2 separate regions of the Homo sapiens genome follow, and region 1 is linked to region 2. Evidence: fine-mapped expression QTL. A gene starts in region 2. The other region holds a variant in brackets. All regions are shown on one strand. Distances are from middle to middle.

Region 1 (5,378 bases), 130 kb after region 2:
GAAACTGCCATTAGAGATGAGCATGACTCCCATATAAAGAGCCAACCTAGGGAAATGACCTCAAGTGAAAAAGGGAAAGAAGCTGATACAGAAATGGGATTTTCTATTACTTTTAAAATTGAAGAGTCCTCTTCCCAAGTGGTACCTCAAGGAATTTCTGTAAAACATTTAGATGCTTTAACACTCTTCAGCTCTAAACAGGCCAATGAAGGAAAAGTAAACAATTTAAGTCTCTGCTTGACTTTAAAACCAGAAGAAAACTTATCTCGAGAAATTGCCTGTGGGGCCCAGAGTGAACCATTCCCTTGTATGACCCCAAGACCTGAAGGATTGCACTACCAGGAATCAGATGGAAAAGCCCAAGTGACAGGCCCATCCCAAATTTCCAAAACAGACAAGTCTTTCCAAGGAACCACCAGACAGGAGACCAACTATCAAGATTCCTGGGTTACTTCGAAAACTAAGGAAACCAAACATCAAATTTCCTCATCTAATGAATGTAAAGAAAAGTCATACCAAGAAGTATCTTTTGACCCAGCAAGAGGTCTTAAATTGGAAGAAATCACAGTTTCTAGACCAGATTCAAAAGAAGTCAGGTATCTAGAATTCTCAGACAGAAAAGACCTTCATCATCAGGGCAGCAAAAGTGATGATAAACTTTGTGGAACTCTCAAATCTGAAATAGCAACACAGGAACTAACTGGAGAGAAATTTCTAGAAATGGCAAACCCTAATGTTGCAGGTCTAGAAGCAGGATCCATTGAGGACATAGTGACTCAGAGAGGTTCCAGAGTCTTGGGATCCTTTCTTCCAGAGAAACTGTTCAAAGGAGTGTCTCAAAAAGAGAATACAGGGCAACAGAATGCCATCATTAGTCCTACTGTTCTAGAGACCAGTGAAGAAAAGACAGTGTCCCTAACAGTATGCTCTGCAGTGAAGACAGAGAAGACACCACAGGAAAAGCTCAGAGAAAGCCCTGGCAGTGAACAAACTCCCTTCATGACTGCACCTGAAGGAAAGGGAAATGGAGGTGTAAACCCAGAGCCCTTCAGAGCAACTCAGGTCAGTGGTGTGCTTTTTTTTTTTTCTTCCTAAAGATACAATTAGTTTAATGCTAAAATTCTTAACTGGGTACAGAGTTTACATATGTGTAATTGTATGCCTCTATACATTTTAAGGCACTAGATGATTCTCTAAGATATAACTTAGTTTATCATCATCTGTTTGTAGCAAAGTTGTTGGAAAATTAGGCATTGGCTCTGAATGTCTTTCTGAAATCTGCAAGGGTTTTAAATAGAAACGAGCTAATAGAAATACTAGGATGATGCTACCTGAAATCAGAATAGCTTTTGGAAATTTTGGTAAAATGATGCTTGTAGATTGATAGCTCTGAGCTTCTGCTCTCTGAGGAAATTGGTAAAATCACCTTTGTCTATTGATTTGAAATGACTTAAACAAAGTGTTTTATTTTATCCCACTCTATGTGCAGTAAAAATTGCTTCTATTTGTCTAACAAAAACCCCTGCCTGCTTTAAAGCTGACTTACAGGAGAACGTCAGAACTGAGTCAGCTTTCTTTTTGGCTCCACAGAATGTATTTACCCGGCAACTCTGTTTAGAACATGATGAAAAGCTAGTATCCTATCTGTCTCTGTTACGGAACATTGAAATGAGGACCAAACAGATTCAACCTTTGGAGCTAAACCTGGCAGAACTACAGGATCTGCTGTGTCAGGCCAAGGTAGGTTCCCAGAGACTTCCACCACAGACACCAGCTTCAAGATAGCTGCCTCCATCTTCCTTGAAGATTTCAAGACTTACTAGAACCTGCTTGCACTCTATTCTAGGGTAAACAATCTCAGACCCTTGTCAGATAATTATGGGATGGGCTACATTTGGATAGACCGGATAAAATTTATACAGGATAAACTTGAACAGACCTTGGATTTGGCTATCAATGTAATTACTACCATTTTTTTTTTTTTTTTTTTTTGAGATAGAGTCTTGCTCTGTCACCCAGGGTGGAGTGCAGTAGCGGTGATCTCGGCTCACTGCAACCTCCGCCTCCCGGGTTCAAGCAATTCCCCTGCCTCAGCCTCCCGAATAGCTGCGACTATAGGCACCTGCCGCCACGCCTGGCTAATTTTTCTTGTTTGTTTGTTTTTTGTGTTTTTTTGTGTGTGTGTGTTTTTTTTTTGAGATGGAGTCTCACTCTGTTGCCCAGGCTGGAGTGCAGTGGCGTGATCTCGGCTCACTGCAAGCTCTGCCTCCCGGGTTTCCGCCATTCTCCTGCCTCAGCCTCCCGAGTAGCTGGGACTACAGGCGCCTGCCGCCACGCCCAGCTAATTTTTTGTATATTTAGTAGAGACGGGGTTTCACCGTGTTAGCCAAGATGGTCTTGATCTCCTGACCTCGTGATCTGCCCTCCTCGGCCTCCCAAAGTGCTAGGATTACAGGTGTGAGCCACCACGCCCGGCCCTACCAATTGTTATCTGCGTGGTTTTGGATTGATTTAGGTAAGTTCAAAGGCAGAGTGATTGGTTAGGAAACTATTGCAGTAATTCAAGCAAGAAATGTTGGAGGCTTAAAACAGTAGATTAGATATGTAAGTTAATCTCTCTTACTTCCTAAAACTATACTAAGACATCAGGAAAAAGGTTTTTTGGGTT[GT/G]TTTTTTTTTTTAGTGCATAAATTCATAAAAGGGCAAGAGAGGAGAAAACAGCAGTAAAATTTTAGAAGTTAGAAAGCAGCTGGATGAGGCGATAACTACCTTAGCAAGCTAGAGTAAACCAGATCCTCAACTTAAAGTGGAGGAAGCTAAGGAACAACCTGATTTATACTACAGAACTCCCCAAAGCCTCAAAAATTGGGAGCACCAGAAAGAGATGAAAATGGATATGCAAACGGGCTTATAATTGGTTTAAAGTCTGTTTAAGAAGCAATTAGACCTTTAGATTTTCAACTTACTTCACATAGCCTGGCAACTGCTTGTGCTGTGCTCTAACGAAAGGCTGGATGTTCATTCTCTGAGGAAAGTAATTCAAAGTATCTCTTGACTAGGGAGAGCAGCCATTTATTGAAGGTAAATATTCCATACAGAAATCAGTAGGATTAACTGGAAGTTCACATACATACTGAATTTTGAGCTATATCCTTGCTCCCGCTATGGTTTGACCAGCCCAAGGGGGAAGACCTAATGGTACTGATATAAGTGGTTTCCCAACTGTATGGCCCAGCTCCATCACCCTCAGTGAAGACTACAGCCAGCAGAGTTTATAGTCAGCTTTTTAGGGCATTACACTCCACTTCAGCATCCAGAAAGCTTCTGATACAAAAGGAGAGGCTAAAACAAAGAAAAAGAAACTTGGACAAAATACAGACTATTTAGGAAAAAAAACATACTGAGGGCCAGTCACAGTGGCTCATGCCTATAATCCCAGCACTTTGGTAGGCCAAGACAAGAGGATTGCTTGAGCCCAGGAGTTTGAGATCATCCTGGGCAACACAGTAAGAAATTAGCCAAGCCTGGTGGTATACACCCTAGTCCCAGCCACTCAGGAAGCTGAGGCAGGAGGATTTGCCTGAGCCCAGGAGTTTGAGGTTGTATTGAGCTATGAATGCATCACTGCACTCCAGTCTGGGAGACGGAGTGAGACCCTGTCTTAAAAAAAAGAAAGAAAAATATATTCAAAAGCACTGCCATTTAAAGGACCAACAAAGAAACAACAACAACAAAAATAGATTGAAAAAGTCTAACTGGAGATCTCTGAAGAAGACCTGGAAACACTCGTCTCACAGAAACCAAAGGAGGAGGAGTCAGCCCTAGTAACTGCCACAGGGAGATTGAGTACAATGAGGACTGAAGGGGAGATTCAGCTCCTGAAAGTTATTGGTGACTTTGAACAGTTTCAGTGGAGTGACGGGATATAAACTAACTTGCAGCTGGAAGAAATGGGAGGTTGGAAAGTAGAGACAATTAATATAGATCCTTCTTTCCAGAAGTCTTAGGTACAGGCAAGGAATGAGGTGGGACACTACTTGAAGGAGATGGATTGAAAGGAATGTTTTGAATGGGTTTTGGACTGAGGAGAAAGAACCAATTAAAAGGGAGAACTTGAAGTTAGAAGAGAGAGGAAGTGATAACTGATAGAACCAGTCCCCTAAAAACGTAGAAAGACAGCCTTGAGAGGGAGGAAGAGTGGCTATTTCACTGAAATTGGAGGTTAAGAGTTGTCATAGGATTGGAGTCACCATGAAGACAGATTGTAGTGGTTTACTGGTTCTCTCAATATCTAGTGTGTGGCCTTGGGTAGGGTGGCTGAACCGGGGCTGAGGATGATGCCCCAAAGAACTATGTCAAGTTCTTCCACAGCTTATTTCCGGCTTATCTGTTGAGGACCAGAATATTACAGACTAGATGAGTGGAAAAGCTGGTTGGGGTTAGCTTTGTATTCTTTGGTTCCATGACCCTGGAATTTAGAGTGGAAGAGTCATCCGTTCGGTTTATTTTGTAGCACATTAATTCTGCACAGCTGCTCCTTGGGGAAAGGCATAATGACACTCTCAGAGAGGCAGCAAGTTACAGTGGAGGGAGCACACTGCACTGAGTGAGAAAACCTGAATCCAAGTCCTGGCTGTACTGCTTACCAGCTGGGTGACCTTGGACACCATTCACATTTTTTTTTTAAGCAATGAGGCATCTCTTCTGTAAATCCAGAACAGTAACATCTACCTTGCCTACTTCATGAATTAGTGATTGTGAGAACCAAGTAAACTAATGAATGTACATAAAAACATTTTCTAAGCCCTAAAGTGTGTGTAGACATGGGGTGAGAGAGAAATGTGTTCACAGCTGATTCCCAGAGGGTTTCTAGTCTTGCTTTTATAGGTAACTCCACTTTATTCCCTCAGGTATTAGAAAGGGAGTTAAAGGATCTGACCACCTTGGTCAGTCAGGAGCTGGAGTGTGTGAATCAGATTATCATCAGCCAGCCTCAAGAAGTTCCTGCTCAACTGTTGAAGGCTCTAGAGAAAGATGCCAAGAATCTTCAGAAGTCTCTCAGCTCTGTGAGTGACACTTGGAATTCCAGGCTACTCCACTTCCAGAATGCTGTGGAAATAGAAAAGGTAGCATTTTGCTTTTATTCATAAAGGCTCACAAAGTCTGGGTGGCTGGGAGATTTTCATAATGTGATTTTCCATTTATTTCTTAGACTAAAGTGTTAAATCAGCACACACAGCTAGAAGGCCGACTTCAAGATCTGAGAGCCTGGGTTGGCAATAAAAATCTTATTCTGAACAGCAAGGGATCTAACAGTGAAATAGATGTTGACAGCCTGAACCTCTGCCTCCAACAGTATGAGGTAAACTCAAGCACAT
Region 2 (5,378 bases):
CCATAGGTGATCTGACCTCGTCTCTGGCCTCCTCTTCTGATACTCTTTCCTTTCCTCTTTCAGGTCCAGCCATTCTAGGTTCTTTGGTGTTCCCTGAACATAAGAAACGTAATTCTGCCTCAGGGACTTTGCACTTGTTCTTTGGCTTATCCATTCTCCAGATAGCCACATGACTTGTTTGCTCATATTCTTTTTTTTTTTTTTTTTTTTTTTTTTTTTGAGATGCACTCTCACTCTGTCTCCCAGGCTGGAGTGCAGTGGCGCAATCTCGGCTCACTGCAAGCTCTGCCTCCCGGGTTCAAACCATTCTCCTGCCTCAGCCTCCCAAGTAGCTGGGATTACAGGCGACCATCACCACGCCCAGCTAAGTTTTTGTAATTTTAGTAGAGATGGGGTTTCACGGTGTTAGCCATGATGGTCTCAGTCTCCTGACCTCATGATCCACCCGCCTCCGCCTCCCAAAGTGCTGGGATTACAGGCGTGAGCCACCACGCCCGGCCTCATATTCTTTATCTGCTCAGATGTCACCTTATTAGACGAGCCTTCTCTGACCATCCTATATATAAAACCGTAAACTTGGCTAGGTGCTGGCCGGGCGCAGTGGCTCACACCTGTAATCCCAGCACTTTGGGAGGCCAAGGCAGTTGGATCACGAGGTCAGGAGTTCGAGACCAGCCTGGCCAATGCGGTGAAACCCCATCTCTACTAAAAATAGAAAAATTAGCTAGGTGTAGTGGCACGTGCCTGTAGTCCCAGCTGCTCAGGAGGCTGAGGCAGGAGAATCGCTTGAAGCCGGGAGGCACAGGTTGCAGTGAGCCAAGATCATGCCACTGCACTCCAGCCTGGGCAACAGAGCAAGACTCTGTCTCAAAAAAAAAAAAAGTAAACTATCCCCCATTGACATTGACACTCCATCTCCTCTTCGTCTCCTTTAGTATTCTCCATAGCATTTATGTGACAAGCTATGTATTTACCTGTTTATATTTCTTTTCTTTCTTCTCCTACTAGTATGTAAGTTCTGTGAGAGCAAGGTCTTTGTTTTGTTTACTGCTATTGTTTCTGGTACCTGGAACATGACCTGGCACATAATATGAAGTAAATATTTGATGAATGAAATGTAGGTTAGCACAAAATTGTAGATGATCCTATTGCCAGATTTAAAAGTTCCCATTGTATTAGTGGTCCCGTCAAGGCCCCTTTATTATTTTTCTGGGTAGTAGGTTATGCACATCTAAAACTCTTTCCTTTTGCTTCAACAAGCTCTAGAAAAAAGCAAAAGGAAAATAAATAAATAAATAAAGATTTCACATAGAAAAAAAAGTAAAACCCTTCCCTATTATTAGAAAAAAATAAACTTGACAGATATATAAAGCAATTTTCATTTTTTAAAGCTTGTGAGACTATAGCATCTTCATCTATATCATAGTGTAATAGGTACTTTAGAAGTAAGTAAACAGGGTCTCACTTTGTCTCAAATAAAAAGGCTGTAGTGCAGTGGCATGATCATGGCTTGCTGCAGCCTTGATTCCTGGGCTCAAGCCATCTTCCCACCTCAGCCTCCCCAGTAGCTGGGACTATACACACATACCATCTCATCTGGCTAAATTTTAAAATTTTTTTGTAGAAATGGGGTCCCACTGTGTTACTCAGTCTGGTCCTGAACTCCTGGGCTCAAGTGATCCTCCTGCCTCAGCCTCCTGAAGTGCAGGGATTACAAGCATGAGCCACTGCATCTGGCCTGATTTAGTGAGTTTGGACAAATGTATACAGTCATGGAACCACCACCACAATCAACAAAAGGAACATTTCCATCCTCTTACAGTTATTTTGTGATCCTTTTAGTCAATTTCCTTCCCTCATTCTCAGCCTCTTCCATTTCTAGTTGTATAGTTTTGCTTTTCTAGAAAGTTATATAAATGGAATCATATGGTATGTAGCCTTTTGTGTTTGGCTTTTTTTATGTAGCATAATAGTTTTGAGAATCATCTGTGTCGTCGTATGTATCAGTAGTTTTATTCTATTTTATTGCAGAATAGGTAGTCCATTATATGGATGCACAATTTGTTTATACATTTACCAGTTGATGGACATTTGGGTTGTTTCCAGTTTTTTATATTATGAATAATGCTGCTGCAAACATTCATATACAGGTCTTTGTGTGGATATACGTTTCTCTTTTTCTTGGATAGATACCTAGGAGTGAGATTGCTGGGTCCTCTGGTCTAAGGCCGGGCACAGTGGCACATGCCTGTAATCCCAGCACCTTTGGAGGCAGAGGCGGGAGGATTGCTTGAGGTCAGGAGTTCGAGACCAGCTTGGCCAACATGGTGAAACCCCATCTCTACTAAAAATATAAAAATTAGCTGGGTGCGGTGGCATCCACCTGTAATCCCAGCTACTCAGGAGGCTGAGGCAGGAGAATTGCTTCAACCCTAGAGGCGGAGGTTGCAGTGAACTGATATCGTGCCTTCCAAAGTGCTGGGATTACAGCCATGAACCACTGCGCCCAGCCAGACGGATTTTTTTAACCCTTGAGAAGTACCCCCTAAATGAGCAGTTTGCTCTCCTCGCTGATCTTCATCACACCTAGATGTCAGGTCTGCTTCATGGGAGCTTGCTCTGTATGTATCCTCCCTGGACTGATGTTCAGGCTCCTTGCTTCTCCTCCCGGGTTGTGGGTATGGAGGGTTTGCCCTCTGACAACTCCAGGGTACTTGTGGTGCTCATACATCCTCATGTACTTTGCTTTCTCCCCGCAAGAGGTTCCCTAATGCTTCTGTGACTTTTTTCTTCTGGCTACATCCTGAAGTCTGGCCTTGCAGGCAGGCTGGGAATGGAAAGTTAAGAGTGTGACGTCCTCTGACACCCTCCCTTCTTGTAGAAGGGTCTGAGGTTTGTTTATTTAAGCTGAGCAGAGGATGCCAAAGATAGAGGTTTGAGTCAGCTTGACACTGGCTTAGGCGCTCCTTTTCACTCTCCTTGTTCCTTCTTCCCTTTCCCCTCCCCCGCTGGCCAGTTGTTTCCTGGGCTTTGTCTGAGATACACTGTACAGTTTTAGTCCCAGTCTACTAGCGCCTGCTGAAAAACAGTCAGAAGTGAGATGGAGGAGAAGCTGCCAGGAAGTTTCTGACAACACTAAGCTCCGGCCTCTGCCTCTGCTGATAGTACAGGACAACAGTAACCTCAGGAGAAAGGCATCCAGAGGCCTGCGCTGAGCTTGTGGCTAACTCAAGGGAGGAGAAAGGACGGGCCTGGAAATGCCCCTCTTAGATTCATCTTATTTACCACCAACCATCTTTATTTTGACTCACGTTCTTGGAGTTGCTGGTGTTCTATACTGGAAGAGGCATGCCAGAGGTAGAGCAGGTAACTAACTGGTACCCAGTTATTCTTTAAATCTACTGTGGGGCTTTTGAGGGTGGGGTGAATGATGGAGGTCTTCCCAGTTGCTTTCCTTAAAGGGCCAGTACGTCCTTCAGCTGGGGTGCTGTCAGACTTAAGAGTGTGTGTGTGTGAGTATAATGAAGAAGCTGGTCTGCCCTGGGGCCACTTTGGGATGGGGGTGGTGCTCTTTTCTGTTCTGTGAGTCTGTCTGGAGAGTGCTGGTTAGATGAGGTGATGACTGGGCTCAAAACTGAAGGGAAGTGGCTGCTGTGCTGACTTAGTCTTTCCTCAGAGAACTGAGCTCTTTCTTTCTCAATCTCAGAGTGGTTTCTTGGAACCTTGTTTTTAACTGAAAACATACAGTAACTCTTTTACCCTCCTCCAGGTATAGATTTGGGTTGGAGAAGTTTCTGTTAACTTGGTGTGTTTTGGGGTGAGAAAAGGCAGAGGAGGAAGGGTCAGTCAGTGGAAGGGGTCGTGCGATGTCCTTGCCGAGGGGCATCCTGGAACACTGGGTGTCTGTGTTCTCTTTGATATCATTGATACTGTTCCTACACAGTTTGGCTATGTGTATCCAAATCATCTTGTTCAATGCAAGGAAGTTAATCCCTCTCTTCCCTAGGGAATCAGGCTTTGATAATTAAAAAAAAAATTTTTTTTTGTAATGGCACCAGAACCCTCATTCTTCCCATATTGCTATTAGTTATATTCTGTTGACTTCTAAACACTCAGAGCAGGGATCAGCCCTGAGTTTGGCTGATTCTGAGTCTCCATGGTTGAGGATTCATATGGTCTAACTTTTACTGGAGTGTATACCCTTGGGTCTCATTGCCTTCAGTACTCTCATTGTGATGGGCTCACTACCTTCAAACTTAGGTATGTAGACACTTTTTATAGTGTATCTTACAAGTTAAGGTGGGGATTTGATGGCTTATTATTTAGCTTTCTATTAAAAGTTCACAAACGCCTGACAGAATTAGAATTAGATTCAATCATTCCCCAGTGTCCTTTCCAGTACGTCCCAGAAAAGCTTTTGACTAAATATTCAGATCCTAGTGTGCATCTATAGCAGCGGAAACAAAGACAGACATTTTAGAAGTGTGTTTGATTGTGTGGTGGTGTTTTTAAAAAAGCCACCTCAAAGTGGCTTTCCTGTATTTGAACTTAGAAAGAAAGAGATAGGCAGGCTTAAGTTGTTTGGTCCTATTTACTATTTCACATGTAATGAGAAAATAAATACAATATCATTTAGGTAGAGGCTGCTGCTTTTCTTTCCTTGTGCATTATGGTAATGTCATTTTTAAACATTAAATAACTAATTAGTTGTTAATATTTTTAAAGTTTATCTTCAGTATAGGACTTTAATGGAACTTAAGAGCTATCACTGTATTTTAAGTGCTTTCTTTTTTATGTTTAGAAATGTTAATTTCATAAACAGCCATAAAGTAATTGAAATAAAAAGATACATTGTAAAAGCTTTTTATTTCTATGAAACAACTTTGATTCTAATACCAAATAGTTATATCGGGAATGTGCTACGTTTGCTTTATCTGTAAAATGAGAGATGTCATTTTTCAATTGGAGGCTATGGATTCCAAATCTTCCATGGAGTTACTTACGAGATTCTGTACCCATTTTATTATAATTGCAATTTTAAGATGCATTTCATTTATTTAAAAATGTATTTTTAAAAATAATATGTACACTCTAATTACCTGCCAGTTGGACATCACAGAATAAAGTTTTTCCACCATCTCTGTGTATATATTTGTACTATTAATAAATGTACACTTGATTAAAAACACAAAGATCGCTTCTTCTGATGTAGTCTTTTTTTTTTTTTTAATTGGAGTTACATACAGTATTGCAGAACAAACTATAGCACATAGGTCTTGTGCCTAATAATAGTAATAATAATGATTCAGGCAGAGCTCAGTTGTATGAGCTCAGGTGTTAACTGAACTATTATAATAGTGAAGTGGGTAATTAATTCA

Evidence for each region. PIP is the estimated chance that this variant, and not a neighbour inherited with it, causes the effect.
Region 1: its variant is fine-mapped to the expression of MACF1 in whole blood (TOPMed, PIP above 0.99).

Annotation. Positions count from the first base shown.
Region 1 is chr1:39,335,592-39,340,969 of GRCh38, forward strand. It overlaps MACF1 (microtubule actin crosslinking factor 1), which reads left to right. Exons shown (of 101, transcript NM_001394062.1): 37 at 1-1,062; 38 at 1,591-1,740; 39 at 4,911-5,126; 40 at 5,213-5,362. Among named protein-coding and RNA genes, the nearest start is that of MACF1, 130 kb to the left of the region's middle. The variant GT/G (reference allele first, on the strand shown) is at 2,669.
Region 2 is chr1:39,201,766-39,207,143 of GRCh38, forward strand. MACF1 (microtubule actin crosslinking factor 1) reads left to right here and starts at 2,930. Exons shown (of 101, transcript NM_001394062.1): 1 at 2,930-3,366. The coding sequence starts at 3,258. RefSeq lists an enhancer at 3,116-3,295.